2 linked regions of the Homo sapiens genome follow. The protein of the gene in region 2 purifies or fractionates together with the protein of the main gene of each other region. This does not show direct contact. Each region holds a gene or a part of one and is shown on either strand. Other genes may lie near its edges.

Evidence for each region.
Region 1: the proteins of KLHL14 (region 2) and KCTD21 purify together in Homo sapiens (affinity purification with mass spectrometry; 3 studies listed by BioGRID and IntAct, with this or other methods). This does not show direct contact.

Annotation. Positions count from the first base shown.
Region 1 is NC_000011.10:78,178,358-78,185,630, reverse strand, and holds part of KCTD21 (BTB/POZ domain-containing protein KCTD21), read left to right. Parts: intron 1-7,273. UniProt on the Homo sapiens protein: Probable substrate-specific adapter of a BCR (BTB-CUL3-RBX1) E3 ubiquitin-protein ligase complex mediating the ubiquitination and subsequent proteasomal degradation of target proteins. Promotes the ubiquitination of HDAC1.
Region 2 is NC_000018.10:32,769,950-32,777,766, forward strand, and holds the start of KLHL14 (kelch-like protein 14), read right to left. Parts: upstream 3,075-7,817; 5' UTR 2,718-3,074; intron 2,339-2,717; exon of another isoform or gene 727-2,338; intron 686-726; 5' UTR 643-685; coding exon 1-642.

The sequences.
Region 1 (7,273 bases), on a different chromosome or scaffold from region 2:
GACAGAGCGAGACTCTATCTCAAAAAAAAAAAATAGGCCTAGTGGTGTGGTTTCTGTGGGTGGTGGCTCTATCCAGACTGCCCACCCAGGCTTAGATTCTAACTCCTCCACCACTTAGCCCTGGTTGGCATCCTCACCCTTCAAAATTCAGAAACACTTGGGAAGGAAAATTATGAGCTTTTCACACTTCTAAGTAGTAGTAGTAAATCTGTAACTTACTAAATCTGGCGACTTATTGGGGTCTGGCACAATGACTGTAACTTTACATCTATTGGCCCTATGAAGAAGTGTTCTTCCCCCCTCTTTTAAAATACAAATATTTTTAAAATTTTCAAGCTTACATAAAAGCTTAAAGTACAACCCTTAACCTAGATACGCCAAATCACAATTTGCCAATTGTGCTTTTACACAAACACACACTTTTTTGGCCCAATTATTTAAAAGTAAGTTACAGATATGTTGATTGACGTTTGACCCCTAAATTCTTCAACATGTATCCCCTAATAAGGGCGTTCTACTACATAGCCATAATACATTATATGTAATAAGCAAGAAGTCAGTATTACCCAATGTAATAGTTATTCAAAATTTTCTGCCAGGTGCAATGGGTCATGTCTATAACCCCAGCACTTTGGGAAGCAAAGGCAGACAGATTGCTTGAGCCCAGGAGTTCAAGGCCAGCCTGGGCAACATAGTGAAACCCCATCTCTACAAAAACTACAAAATTTAGCATGGTGTGGTAGCGTGCACCTGTAGTCCCAGCTACTTGGGAAAATCACCTGAGCCTGGGGATGTCAAGGCTGCAGTGAACCATGATCGCGCCACTGCACTCCAGCCTGGGCGACAGAGTGAGACCCTGTCTCAAGAAAAAAAAAATTCTAATTGCCCAAAAATACCTTATATAGTTTCTGGTTTTTAAAATCAGATCCAGTCAAGATGTACATATTGCATCCTATTATATCTCTTTTATCAACTCATTTAATCTAAATAGAGCCCCTTGGCATGGTAGCTCATGTCTGTAATCCCAACATTTTGGGAGGCTGAGGTGGGCAGATCACTTGAGGTCAGGAGTTCGAGACCAGCCTGGCCAACATGGTGATACCCCATCTCAAGTAAAAATACAAAAATTAGCCGGACATGGTGGTGTGTGCCTATACTCCCAGCTACTCAGGAGGCTGAGGCAAGAGAATTGCTTGAACTCAGGAGGTGGAGGTTGCAGTGAGCCGAGATTGTGCCACTGCACTCCAGCCTGGGCAACAGAGTGTGACTCTATCTCAAATAAATAAATAAATAAATAAATAGAGCTTCTCCACCTATTTAAATATGTTTGATTGGTTTATCAATGATTAGATTGGGGTTAGATTTAAGTTTTTGGCAATGTGTGTACTTACTGCATGTCAGGAGGATATGATGTCAGGGTCTTACTATCCATGAATGCTAAATTTGATTATTAAGGTCATGGCAACCTGATCTCTCTATCGTAAAGGTAAATTTTTCTCTCTTACAATTAATAAGTAATCTGTGAAGTGATTCTCTGAGTCTGTTATAATTATGTGTTCCTGATAACCTTTCACACCACATCCTTGGATGATCCTTGCTTGAATTACAACACTGAGGGTTGCAAATTGGTAATTTTCTAATTCTGCCATTCCTTCTGTGTTTATTAGTGTTCTTTTTTATAGAATTAATTTTTCCTGGCCGGGTGCGGTGGCTCACGCCTGTAATCCCAGCACTTTGGGAGGCCGAGGCGGGCGGATCACGAGGTCAGGAGATCGAGACCATCCTGGCTAACAAGGTGAAACCCTGTCTCCACTAAAAATACAAAAAATTAGCCGAGCGAGGTGGCGGGCGCCTGTAGTCTCAGCTACTCGGGAGGCTGAGGCAGGAGAATGGCGTGAACCCTGGGAGGCGGAGGTTGCAGTGAGCCGAAATCACACCACTGCACTCCAGCCTGGGCGACAGTGAGACTCCGTCTCAAAAAAAAAAAAAAAGAATTAATTTTTCCTGTCTCTATCTTTCTCACTCCCTTCTTCTCACCCTCTTTTTTCTTTTGGGAATAACATTATGGACTCTTGTTTTTTGTTTGTTTGTTTTTGAGATGGAGTCTCACTCTGTTGCCCTGGCTGGTGTGCAGTGGCACGATCTTGGCTCACTGCAACCTCCACTTCCCAGATTCAAGCGATTCTCCTGCCTCAGCCTCCCAAGTAGCTGGAATAACAGGCGCACGCCACCCCGCCCAGCTATTTTTTGTATTTTTAGTAGAGATGGGGTTTTGCCATGTTAGCCAGGCTGGTCTTGAACTCCAGACCTCAGGTGATCCGCCCGCCTCGGCCTCCCAAAGTGCTGAGATTACAGGCATGAACTACCGCACCCAGCCTGGACTCTTGTTTTGTTGTTGTTGTTTTTTAATTCACTGGGCTATATGAACTCACCTTGAACTTTTCCTGTGAAAGTCCAGGAATCATCAGTTTCTCCAGGAAGCCCTGGTTTCTTTTAGAAGAGATGATGACATTCAGAAACAAAGATCCAGGGCTAGGTGTGTTTATTGCTACTGGGTGTCATTTCTAGGCTCTGTGAGTGAGCAGAGCTAGGAAATGATGGATAGGTGATTGATAGATAGATGATAGATGGACAATTTTCATTACTCAGTACATTTATTGTTACAACAGCTAGTCCCCACTGACAGGATTGCATGGTAAGTCATTTCATTATGGAAGTAATGCTCATTATGGAAGTGGACAGTAATGTAGGAAAAAAGGAAATTGCACAGAAAAGAGCTCTTGCCTACTCCAGGTCGCCATGAGTATACAGACTGTTGGCTAGGACCTCTGTGGCTGGGTTCAGCTTCCTGCCGAAGACGTCTAAAGGACTGGTTCTCTGAAGGGTGTCCAAACCAGAACTTCCCAGAGGCCATGACTCTGAGGTCAAGAATCCACATGAAGCCCTGGGCAAGGGATTCACGCTCTTTGGGTCTGCTTTAGGTTGTCTTTGAAACAAAGACAATGTAATCGGTCCTGCCTGGGTCCCAGAGTTGTAAGGATCAATATATTTATCAATATGTTTATTTTTAAACATTGCTAGTTGTGTCTCTTCACATTTATTACCAAATTCCTTCTCTTCTCATTGTTTTAAAACCACAGAGGGAAATGTCATTGCTTTATAATCTAGTTTAATACATTGCGCTAAGATGTCTTATTCAAATACTCTTTCAGGTTATCAGTCATCAGTGCTTCCAGATTAAAATTTTAATTATTTAAATCTTTTTTGAAAAATACTATTGGGATTTGGATTAGGATAGCATAACAACTATAATTAATTTTGAGGGGGGGGGGGTGCTTTGGGATAAGGCCTGGCTCTGTCACCCAAACCAGAGTGCAGTGGCACAGTCTTGGCTCACTGCAACCTCCACCTACTGGGACAAAACCAATTATTAAAATAGAAGAAGTTCCTATAGCTATTATCACTTGGGAAATTACACAGTTTTTAGCCCTGGCCAACAGCTGGGGACAAATCTAAAATGTATATTGCTTATTATATCACAGTATCACACAACCCCTCCCCTGAGTGCAAGGCGGTGACTATGCAGACGTGAGACATGCAGTTGCTCTCAGCTCACAAACTAGGCAGTGGTTTCCAAAAAAAATTGTTTTGTCAGCCACAGTATGAAGATACCATGATCCAGTTCATAGACACACAACTGAAACAAAAGTTTCACAACAATATATAATTGGTTACAACCCACTTAACTGTATTGATGTCATGACTTGCCAATAGGTCACAACCTTCATTTTTTTTCCTGTTTATGGAGGTAAAACTTAAGTATGGTAAAATTTACACTTTTTTTTTAATTGAGACAGGGGTCTTACTATGTTTTCCAGGCTGGTCTTGAACTCCTGGGCTCAAGTGACCCTCCTGCCTCGGCCTCTCAAAGTACTGGGATTATAGGCATGAACCACCACAGCTGGCCACAATTCACCCTTTTAGATGTGTATGGTTACATGAATTTTGACAGTCTTTATAAACACATTTGACCACCACCACATCATATTACTTTTGTGCCAACCTAATAGAATATTCCCATCACTCCAAAATATGCCTTGTGTTTCTTTGTAACCAGTCTTTTCCCTCCAACCCAGCCCCAAGAATTCACTTAATCTGATTTCTGTCTTTATAGTTTTGCCTTTGCCAGAACGTTATACAGATAGAGTCATGTACCATGTAACCTTCTGAGGCTGGCTTCTTTCACTTGACGTAATGCTTTTGAAATTCATGTATGTGGTAATGTCTTTTAGTAGTTCCTATATATTGCTGAGTCATATTCTATTGTATGGATGTACTGCAATTTATCTGTTTACAATTAGTTGTTTCTGAGTTTGGGCAATTATGAATAAGCTGCCATAAACATTCACATATGAGTCTTTGCATGGACATATGTCTCCATTTCTCCGGCATAAATACCTAGGAGTAGGGTCATTGGGTCACGTGATAATTGTATGCTGTATTAGTCCATTCTCACACTGCTAATAACAACATACCCCAGACTGGCTAATTTACAAAGGAAAGAGGTTTAATTGACTCACGGTTCCACAGGACTAGGGAGGCCTCAGGAAACTTAAAATAATGGTGGAAGGGGAAGCAAACATGTCTTTCTTCACATGGCAGCAGCAAGGAGAAGTGCCAAGCGAAGGGGGAAACCCCTTATAAAACCATCAGATCTCTTAAGAACTCACTATCACAAGAACAGCATGAGGAAAACCGCCCCAATGATTCAATCATCTCCACCTAGTCCTGCCCTTGACACATGGGGATTATTACAATTCAAGGTGAGATTTGGGTGGGGACACAGAGCCAAACCATACCATATGTCAAACTATTTTCAACAGCGGTTACCATTTGTCAGCAGTGTATGAGGTTTCCATTGTTCTATGTACTCACCTTCAATTGGCATTGTCAGTTTTTATATGAGCCACTAATAGGTATATAGTAGCATATAATTGTGGTTTCAATTTTCATACTCTCATGACTGATGATATTGACCATCTTTTCATGTGATTGTCAGTCATCTGCATATCTTCTTTGCTGGAGTATTTGTTAGATCTTTTGTCTAGTTGTTTTGTTTTTGTTTTTGTTTAAGTAGAGATAGGGTTTCACCATGTCGGCCAGGCTGTTCTTGAACTCCTGGCCTCAAGTGATCTGCCCGCCTCAGCCTCCCAAAGTGCTGGGATTACAGGCATGTGCCACTGCACCCAGCTTTATGTGTTTTTTAATTGGGTTATTTTCTTACTGAGTTTTGAGAGTTCTTTATATATTCTGGTTAACAATCCTTTATCAGATAGGTGTTTTGCAAATATTTTCTCCATCTGTGTCTTATTCTTTCATTTTCTTAACAGTGTCTTTTGAAGAGCAGAAGTTTTTTACGTGGATGAAGTCTAGTTTATTGATGTTTTTAATGGTTTGTCCCTTTTAGGTCCTATCCAAGAAATCTTTGCCTAATCCACAGTTGCAAAGATTTTCTCCTAGAAGTTGTGTAGTTTTAGATTTTATATTTAGGTCTATGATATGTTCTGAGTTTATTTTTCATAAACAGCATAAGAGATGGACCAAGGTTCTTTTTTTCCCCATATGGATGTCCACTGATCTGCATTTTGAGATAGCCAGGGAAGAGGGCCATGTGCAAAGGAGATCGCTGCAGGTGGAATGCTGGGTGCTGCCAGAGGGGGTTGTGCAAGGCACCAGGAAGCCCTGAGAGGAGAGCTGTTAACCTAGTGGAGATCTGGGGACAGTAGTACAGAGGTGATGACTCATAGGCTGGGCCTGAAAGGTAGACAGCAGAGAGGGTAGAGAAGGTAGACAGGGGTGGTCTAGGGACAGCAAAGGCAGGGCAGGTGTCAGCATGAAGGAGACTGACTCAGTGGCGTCTGGCGTGCGTGGAGGGCAGGGTTAGACATGAGAGGGAAAGAGGAAGGTGGTTGGGCAGGGACGGTACTTCAGGAAGGTCAGTCTGCAGACCAGAAAGGAAGGTGGACAGAAGGCAGGGAGCCGAGTGAGGATGTAGGGGTGCAGGGGGCAGGGATGAGGCCTGAGCTCTGGGAGTAGCTATAGGGATGGGTTCAAGGAGATAGTCAAGACAAACTGTAGGGCTGAAGAGTCGGGGCTGCTTCCCTCAGGCAGTTGGGTGGCTCAGAAGAGTTCACAGCAGAGTTAGGGGCAGAGGAAGGCACAGGTGAGGCTTCTGGTACCTGTGTTACTGGTGGAGGGTCTTGACTAGGAATTTTCCAGGTCCTTGGCGTTTTGAACAAAGTAGCAGAGGGGCAGACGTGGTAATCCCCACACTTTGGGAGGCCTGGATGGGCAGATCACTTGAGGTCAGTCCAAGACCGGCCTGGCCAACGTGGTGAAACCCGTCTCTACTAAAAAAAAAAAAAGTAAAAATAAAAAGAGTAGCAGGGGAATGAAATGCAGGAATGAAGCAGTGAAAGCAGGAATTAAAGTGAGAAAGCACTCCTCAGGGTGGGAGTGGGCCGGAGCAAGGAACTCAAAGGCCCAGTTACAAAGTTCTCTGGGCTTTAGGTACCCCATTTGAGGTTCTTATCAGCTACTCCTTATCTGGACGAAGGATTTAGTCTGTGGCTAATTAAAGGCTGAGGTGAATGGGCACCCTATGCAGATAAAGGGATGGTCCCAATCCAAGGCCCCCCTCCCTTTCCACCTGAGACATGGTGGAGTGGGAGGGTTGCAAAGAGGAGCGTTTGATCCTTTGTCACCCAGCTGGGGCGATGGCGTTTTTCCTCTTGGTTCAGCTTTAGGAATTTGGTGTTAATTGGTCTTAGGGTCCCTGCCCCCAGACCCAGGATTTTCCTTCTGATCCAGCTTTGGGAAGTCAACAGAATTGGCCTCAGATTTTTTGCCCCAGACCTTGGTGTTTTCTCTTTTATGAAGTTAGCACAAATTGGCCTTAAGTTCCTTGTCTCCAAACCTTGTTCTCCTGCCTCACTTGCAGAATATCCAAGTGGAGGTGGCCAGGAGGCATCTGGGAACACATAGGGGACTGAGGCTCAGTGGTGTTAGTTCATTACTACCTGACTGCAAACCTCCGCCGACTCATGAAACTCCCCTCGTGTCATGTCATTTTGCCTTTTGTAGCAGGGCCGTGGATTTGTGATGATGGACACTGTGGCCCTGTGGCTAGAAAATAGGGGCTTAGACCAGGCACGGTGGCTCACGCCTGTAATCCCAGCACTTTGGGAGGCCGAGGCGGGCAGATCACAAAGTC
Region 2 (7,817 bases):
CAGCACATCCTCCACCAGGTACTTGTTGGCCAGCTTCTTGGTCTCCTCCAGGCCGTGCAGCGCGGCGATCTTGCACACCTGCTTGTAGTTCTGCACCGAGATCTGGTCGTTGAGGAACTGCACGCAGAGCTTGGTGACCTGGGGGATGTGCAGGATCTTGCTGACCGACAGCACCTCCTCCACCGTGTCCAGGGACAGGGTCACGTTGGCCGTGTAGAGGTACTCGAGCACCAGGCGCAGCCCGATGGACGAGCAGCCCTGCAGCACCAGGTTGTTGATGGCCCGGGGGCTGGTCAGCAGCTTGTCGTCGGGGGAGGAAGAAGGAGTCCCGGGCTCCTCCTGCGGCGGCGGCTGCTGCTGCTGTGACGGCTGCTGCTGCGGCGGCTGCTGCTGGTCCTTGGGGGCCCCCAGGCCGTCCTGGCCGCCGACCCCTCCCCCGAGAGGGGGGTGGCTGGAGAAGAGCGATCGGAAGTACTGCGAGCAGGAGGCCAGCACGGCCTTGTGGCAATGGAACTGCTGGCCCTGGGCCGTCAGGGTCACGTCGCAAAACAGCTGCTTCCTCCACAGCAGGTTGAGGCCGTGCAGCAGGTTGTCGCTGTGGCTGGGGTCGAAGGTGGAGGTCCTGTCCCCGGATCTGGACATGGCGAGCTGACTCGGTGCACCTGGCTTTAAACCCTCCTCCAACCTGGCAGACAGGGGTGGGGGATGGGAGGGAGGGGAGCAGGGTGGTGGAGCGGGTGGGGTGTGGTCGGGGTGGGGAAGGGTGTGGAGGGGAGGGGAGGGCGAAGAACAAGAATCAAGGCTCAGCTTGACTCCCTCCTGGCGCGCTCCGGACCCCGACCCTAGGAGGAAAGTCCGAAGACGCTGGATCCGTGAGCGCCACCAGAAGGGCCCTGTCTGGGGTCCCGGCGCCGGTTCTGCGCCCTGCGGCTCCTCTCGCCACCTCCCACACACTTCGTCCCTCACTTTCCTAAAACCAACCACCTCAGCTCGGCTGTTGGCAGCAACAGCAGTGGCAGCAGCGACGGCAAAGTGGCGGCTGAGGCCGAGGCACCTCGTGGGCTCGTGTCCATGCCGGGCCAGATGAAGGGAAAGGCCGGGAAGTGGGGAGCCGGGGGTGCCCTGAAAGCTCAGAGGCGACCGACGGCGAAGGTTCCAGGTCAACTTGTGCCCGAAGCTTTGCTTTTCGCAGTTGGCCCAGTTTGGGGGAGGGGGTAGGAACAGGGGCCCGACCAGCGTGCGGGGTGTGCGAATCTTAGCTCTCCAAAAGCTGGGACCCCCTTCGATTATCCATGCTGCCCCGAGAAACTCCTAGGCTAATAGTCTGAGGGAGGAGATAAAGCCCTTTCTTCTCCCGGGAAAGTGCAGCGGAGCGCGGTGAGGACCCGCTCAGTGGAATCGGCAGAGGCGGGAGCTGTCCTTATCAATTCGAGCTCATTTCCCTCAACCTGGCCCTGCCCGCTTCCCCGCTTCGCAAACTGTTGGCTTCCCCGTCACCACTCAGTTTGGCTAATTTTCCAGAGATGGCTTTAAACCTGGCAGGAGAATCCTTCCACCACCGCCACCCCCACCCGGTGGCCCCCTCTCCCCCGTCTCGCTCATTTCAAAGCGCGGAAGTTCAGGCATCAATCTCCCCTTCCAGCGAGGGGCGGCACCGAGGACTCAGGGGGAGGAAGTGGGGCTGCGAGGACGCGTTTGGAGAGGGAGCCGGGAGGCCTGGAGGCCGGGAGGGATTCGTGTGCACGGTTTCCCCTCCCGGGCACCAGGCGCAGTCGCTTTAACTCCAGTAACTATGAGAAGTTCAAGTTAGAAGGCAGGTGTTGGGGGAGGGGTGGGGGCTGTCGAACGAGCGGGGGGGCGGGGGAGCAGTGGGGTGCGGGGTCTCTGCGCCCCACCCAGCATCGTCGCCTGCAGCCGCAGCTCCCTTCTGACCCCCTCGGTAGAGCCCCCAGCGGCCCCCCACTCGGGCACCCCCACTTCCCCGGCCCTGGAACTACTTCTGTAAAAAGTCTGAGCCGCCCGCATCTAGGCAGAGGAGGGCAGGGTGGGGGAGGCGAGGCGAAATCGATACGCCAGGTCCTTAACCTGTAATTGCACCTTCCAGGGCTGAGCAGAAAGGGACCCTCTGCTTGCATCCCGCCCGCGCGCCGGCCCGCCGGCCCGCCGGCCCGCCCGCCCGGGGGAGAGCCGCCGCCGCCGCCCGGCTCGGAGGGATCCCGGCGGACCTGCCCCTTCCACTGCGGCTCACTCTGCCCTGCCTGGCGCCGGTCCTGGATCGCCGGCTTCCTATTTATACCGGACTGGGCTCCTTTCGACTCACTTTACCATCCCGTTCCAGGTGGACCCTACCCTCCCTCGCGCTCCCTCCGCCGGCAGCACCCCCACGCCCGCCCCCAAAGCTCTGGCTTGCCTGAAACATCTTACAGAGTCTCTCTCCCTTTAAGAGGACCCGGTCATACCTCTCTCTAGCTCTCTCCGCTTCGTTGTCTCCCCCCGCCCCATCTTTTCCTATTCCCCTTCCTTCTTGTTCTTCTCCCTTGCCTTTCCTCCTCATCTGCTTATTTCTTGCAATAGGAGTTTTTTCTTTATGAGCGTTTGCCATACAACTACCCCCCCGCCAACCCCTCTGAAAGACTCCCTCCCCGGCCCTTCCCCCTCCAACAATCCAAAAGACAGAACAAAATACACACAAGGCAGACACAAGGCCAGAAACTTACCTGTTCTCAACCAGCTGCAAAGTCAAGGCTCACTTAAGCTCCCCCCAAAAATCAATTGTCCTTCCTTTTTAAAGGTTTGCTGTCTCCTTGGGAGGGGGAAAACACCTTCTGGTTCCCAACTCCAGGCAGTCACTCTTTACAATTTATTTTGTCGTACATCATTTGATCACCATGAATTAGCAACAGCAAGAAAATGTAGGAGAGGGAGAAAAGAGAGAAAGAGAGAGGGAGAGAGAGAGGGAGCAGAGCTTTCTGCAAGAGAAGAAGAAGAAAAAATGTACGTGTGACAAATTATGCTACCAAGAAACAACACATCATTATCCTTGGGCCTGGGGCTCAGTGAGTCGTAACGAGAGTAATAGGAAATCCACGGTTGGGGAGAGAAACGGTCGTGCTTGGCCAGTAGAGAGAGACCATACAGGGGGATGGATGCTGGAGAGACTCGCAAAATTATGGCTCAAGGCTATTGTAAAAATTGTCGAGCGTAAATGACTGCGATTTCAAACATCTTTGGAAGAAAGAAGGGGAAAAAGCGAGCCCCCCCTCCCTCCCTCTCCCTCTCTCTCCCTCTCTCTTCTCTCTCTCTATAAAGAACCGTCAAGTTTTAGTGCGCATTGCTAATTAGTCAATTTCTCTCTGCCTTCACAGGCTGGCGACTTCGCTGCTGAGCTGAAACTGCTAATTTCTGTGACCAGCTTTTTTCTTAGCTGTGATCTGGATGAATGAGTAGCTGTCTCACAGAGATGACAAAAATAAACTCTAATCCCCCCCAAAATTTCCACTACATCTTTCTCATGCATAGATTTATGATCTTCAAGTGCTCTGTGCAATATGCAAACTTTTTTTGTGTCTGTATATATGCTGTTGTTTCCAGATTTCACTACATTGGTATGCTGCTTTTCCCTTCCCCCCACACCTCCCCCCCACCCCCAGCACTGTGAAATGCAGAAACAGTCTGATCTCAAAGTATGCTAAGACACTACTTTATTCTGTTTTGGTATTTGGGGTTTGGGTCTGTCCTGAAAGACACTAGCCCTTGCCTAAAAGGTGAGTGGCTGAGGATACACACCGGGGTGGGGGAGTAGAGCTGGTAGACAGAATAGAGGACAGCCCTTTGCTTTACATTTGCTTCCCACAAGGCACTGTTCAAGGTTTATGATCTTATTTGAAAACATATTTTCTCTATCATTTTGTCTGGTTAAACAACTGCCTCTGAACTTCTCTGTCAGCTCTTCAACAGATAAGGGTGCAGAAGTCACGTTTTTTTTTTTTTTTTTTTTTTACTGAAAGATTATCATATTGTTGGATTTGTATTTCAATTAGGAGTCTTTGATTTGCAGGAGCTAGAATCAAGTGCTAGGAAACCCAGCCGCAATTTCACAAATGTAACCTTTCAACTTTAGAGCTCATCTGATATATAAGGGCAACCACATAGTGCTCACATTTTTGACCCTGCTTAGCATGCAAAAGGAACCCCAGCATGTTTCTGGAATTTTAGCTGTACCAGAGATTCATGTGCATTTTGGTAGAGGACATGTTCTCCAGACTTATCTCATGATGTATTGCACCCTTATGTTTATAGCCCTGCATTTCGGTTGTCAATGGGGGTTGGAGGTGTCCAAGAAAGAAAGAAAAAAAAGAAGCAGAAAAAGGAAGGTATGCCCTTGAGTAAAATGAACACGAAGAAAGCTGGACATGAACTAAATTGAGCTTTGTTTGCTATTAACTATATGACTATGATTCATTCTAATTTATATGTGCTCTGATTAGTAAACTTATTAAAATACGTATCAGGGCACCATTGCAAGACATCTATTCAGACCCCCCATCATCCTCTTTGATTTGTGAGAGATGGAAAGACACCTGCTTAGGAAAGGGAGGAAAATTAAAAATTCTGAGGTTCAGAAATAGGGATTCCCCATTTACAATGATAACATTAACGTGCACATGGGATAGTCACACTTAAATGAATTAAGAAGGATCAAACTGAAGCATTTAACCCTCACAAAGCCCCCCCACTTTTTTTGTCAAGGTTCTAGATTATCTGAGAGTAAGACTTCTTTATTCAGATCCTGTTGAGATGCTGCATTCTCATATTTATGTTTATAGTGGAAATGCCCCAATACATGATTAAATCATAGAAAAGAATTTTGCTGTTGTTGTTGTTTAGGGCAGAGGAGAGAAAGACAACAGATTATACAATTCTCCTGGCCCTATTATTGTTTTGATTTTTGTTTAAATTTCCCTTATTTGGGTGTTGAACAGGAAGATCATGTGACTCTAAGATAGAACATTTTTGGAGTTCTGTGTCACTAGCAATTAAAGCTATCAAGTATGTGGAGTGTCACAAAACTCTCATACATGTAAAGTGCAATTTTTATATTATGATTTTGATGTTGATCTTTTATGAACTTCTCATGAAGTATTTGGAACTAAGCCCAAAGGCAATAATAGTATTGATCACTTAAATTATGGCCACCTTCCTGTTTTATCTTGAAAGAATTAAAGTATGTTTGTAGGCCTCAAAATAACTTAGTTTCAAATTTCTATTTTTTTATGGATAGGATATATTGACCACTAATTATGATTACCAGGCTCTTTATTGCTTCCAAACAATATAAAAGCCACATTTCAAAAATTTTAGCTACCTATAATTTTAATGCTTATTTAACAACTAGGGTGGAAAGGGAAGAGAGTGGGATTGGGAGCTGGCAATTCTAAAATGGCTGTTGAAGTGGATAAAAACATTTTCTTCTGCATTCTAAAGTTATCTGATAATGTTTAAATTTCAGAAAAAAATACAATTCTGGTTATTGTATAAGCAATTAAAAAAGAATATTGATAAAGGGTCCCTTCATAATCTGTGCATAAACTAGCATATATGTCATGTAAATCTCACACCTCCAGTATCTTATACTGGCTTTGACTGAAATTATTGCAGAACTCACAAATGAGACGACACTATTTACAATAAATCTCGTTATGAAAGATTCAATTTGCAGCAATCAGATGCTAGCTACTAAGCGATTTTAAGTATTTGAATTTTATCCTACTTCAGTGTTCAACATACAGAAATTGCATCTGTGTGTTTGATCTGTCCTGCTGAGCGCTATCAGCAGCTTGCATCTCTGCCACTATTGTTTTTAAAATGGCAGGAAGGACGTGACTAGTCAGGAGCACTCAGCAGGATGGATTTCACGTGGCATAAGAGGAGCCAGAATTGTCTTTTTTAAAAAAAAATTAAATATGATTGTGTAGTCATCTAATGCAAGCCATCTTCATACTTCGATAGAATTATCAAAATTATTCATTAGTGAATTTGCATTTAAACCATGTACAATGGAAAGATTCTGAAACTATGGCCACTGAGCAGTCTACTAGAGCTGCCATTAGTTTCTAGTGGTCTGGTCAGCCTTCAAGGTGGCAGAGATCCAGGCCTATCAGTGGTTCCAGTTGCTCAGGATCATCTCACTGGACTGGAGGAACTGAAGATTATCTTTAGAGCAGTTCTAGAAATGTTTTGCTGCTTAACATATAGGGGCAGCCACACTGAATCTTTATTTTCCTTATTCTTGACTTTTCTGCTTAGGATTTATGAGTTATCACCAAATTGCATAAACATCAGAGCCTGGTCTCCCCTGTGTCTTTTGGATAGTAAACACTATTTCAATGTGATCTGACCTTTAAGATTACTGTCATTGTGGAATGGATGTATAAGGGAAGAAATTATTCCATTTTACACATGGAATAAAATTGAGTAAAGAGGGATCACATAGCTCCTTCAAAGTTAGGGAGTGGCAAAACCCAGGCACAACTCAAGATTTCTAGTTTTTTTTTTTTTTTTAAATCTTGAGTAGATGGGTCAAAGATATCACAGAACCATCAGCACTGAGAAGCTTATTAAAGAACACAAAATCTGAAATAACAATAAGAAATGGTGCTATTGGCTAACATTTAGGCAAAAGCCAATGGTTTGCTATTGCTCTGCTGTCAAGCCCAACTCTGTGGCTCACATTCCGGGTTCCCAGTATTTAGCTCTAGCTCCTCTGGGCAGCCTGTTCTGGACACGCTCCACTGTTAAACTGCAGCACCTATTGTTAGGCTGTGTCTTTTTGAGAGGCCTTCATTCTCTACAAATAGAAATTCCACTTACCTCTCAAGAGTAAACTCAGATTTCTTTCCACTATAAAACTTTTCCTGGCAACCTCTAACAGAATAATAATGGCTACTACTTATTGAGTTTATTACTGCATGGTGGACACTGTTCCAAATCCTTCAGATGTTTTATTTTCTTAATCCTCTTGCTAATCCTATGGAAGACTATGGCAGATTGCAAAAATACCTCCATGTCTCCACCCTTCCTGGTATACACACTACATTATAATATGGCTTTGCTGCTCTTCTCATCAAGAGTGGAATCGACTTACCTAATCCTTGAATGTGAGCTGGCCTTGTAACTTGCTTTGACCAATGGAATGTGCCAGAAGCGACCTTGTGCCAATTCTGAGTCTAAGCTTCAAGAGGCCTTGTGTGTTTCAACTCTCCCTCTTAGAGCCCTGCCAGATACCATGTGATGAAGCCCAGGCTAGCCTGGTAGAAGATGACACATCACATGGACAAAACATTCCCCAGATTGCCCAATAGCTGAACTCAGATGCATGAATGAGCCCAGCTGAGACAGGAGAACCAACATGCTCCAAATGACAGATCCACAGAACCCTGAGCTACATCAATGGCTGCTGTTTCAAGTCATTAGCTTTTGGGGTGATTTGTTCCATAGCCAAATTAGCTGCTGAAGAAAGGTACAATTATTATCATTTTACCAATGAGCAAAATGAAATGCAGAGAAATCACGTAAATTTTTCAGAATCACACAACTTTTCAAAAGTAGTGCTTAGGTTCAAACCAACACAGCCTGACTCCAGGGATTTACCATTCTACTGTACTGGCCACAAAAGAAATGCCTGCCTCTAGGAAACATTTGTTTATTTATTCATGCATTCATTCATTCATCAAGTATATATTAAGTATCTATTGAACACCAAACACTGTGCTAAACATCAAGGAAACAATGATGAATAAAACTGCATTCTTGTCCTC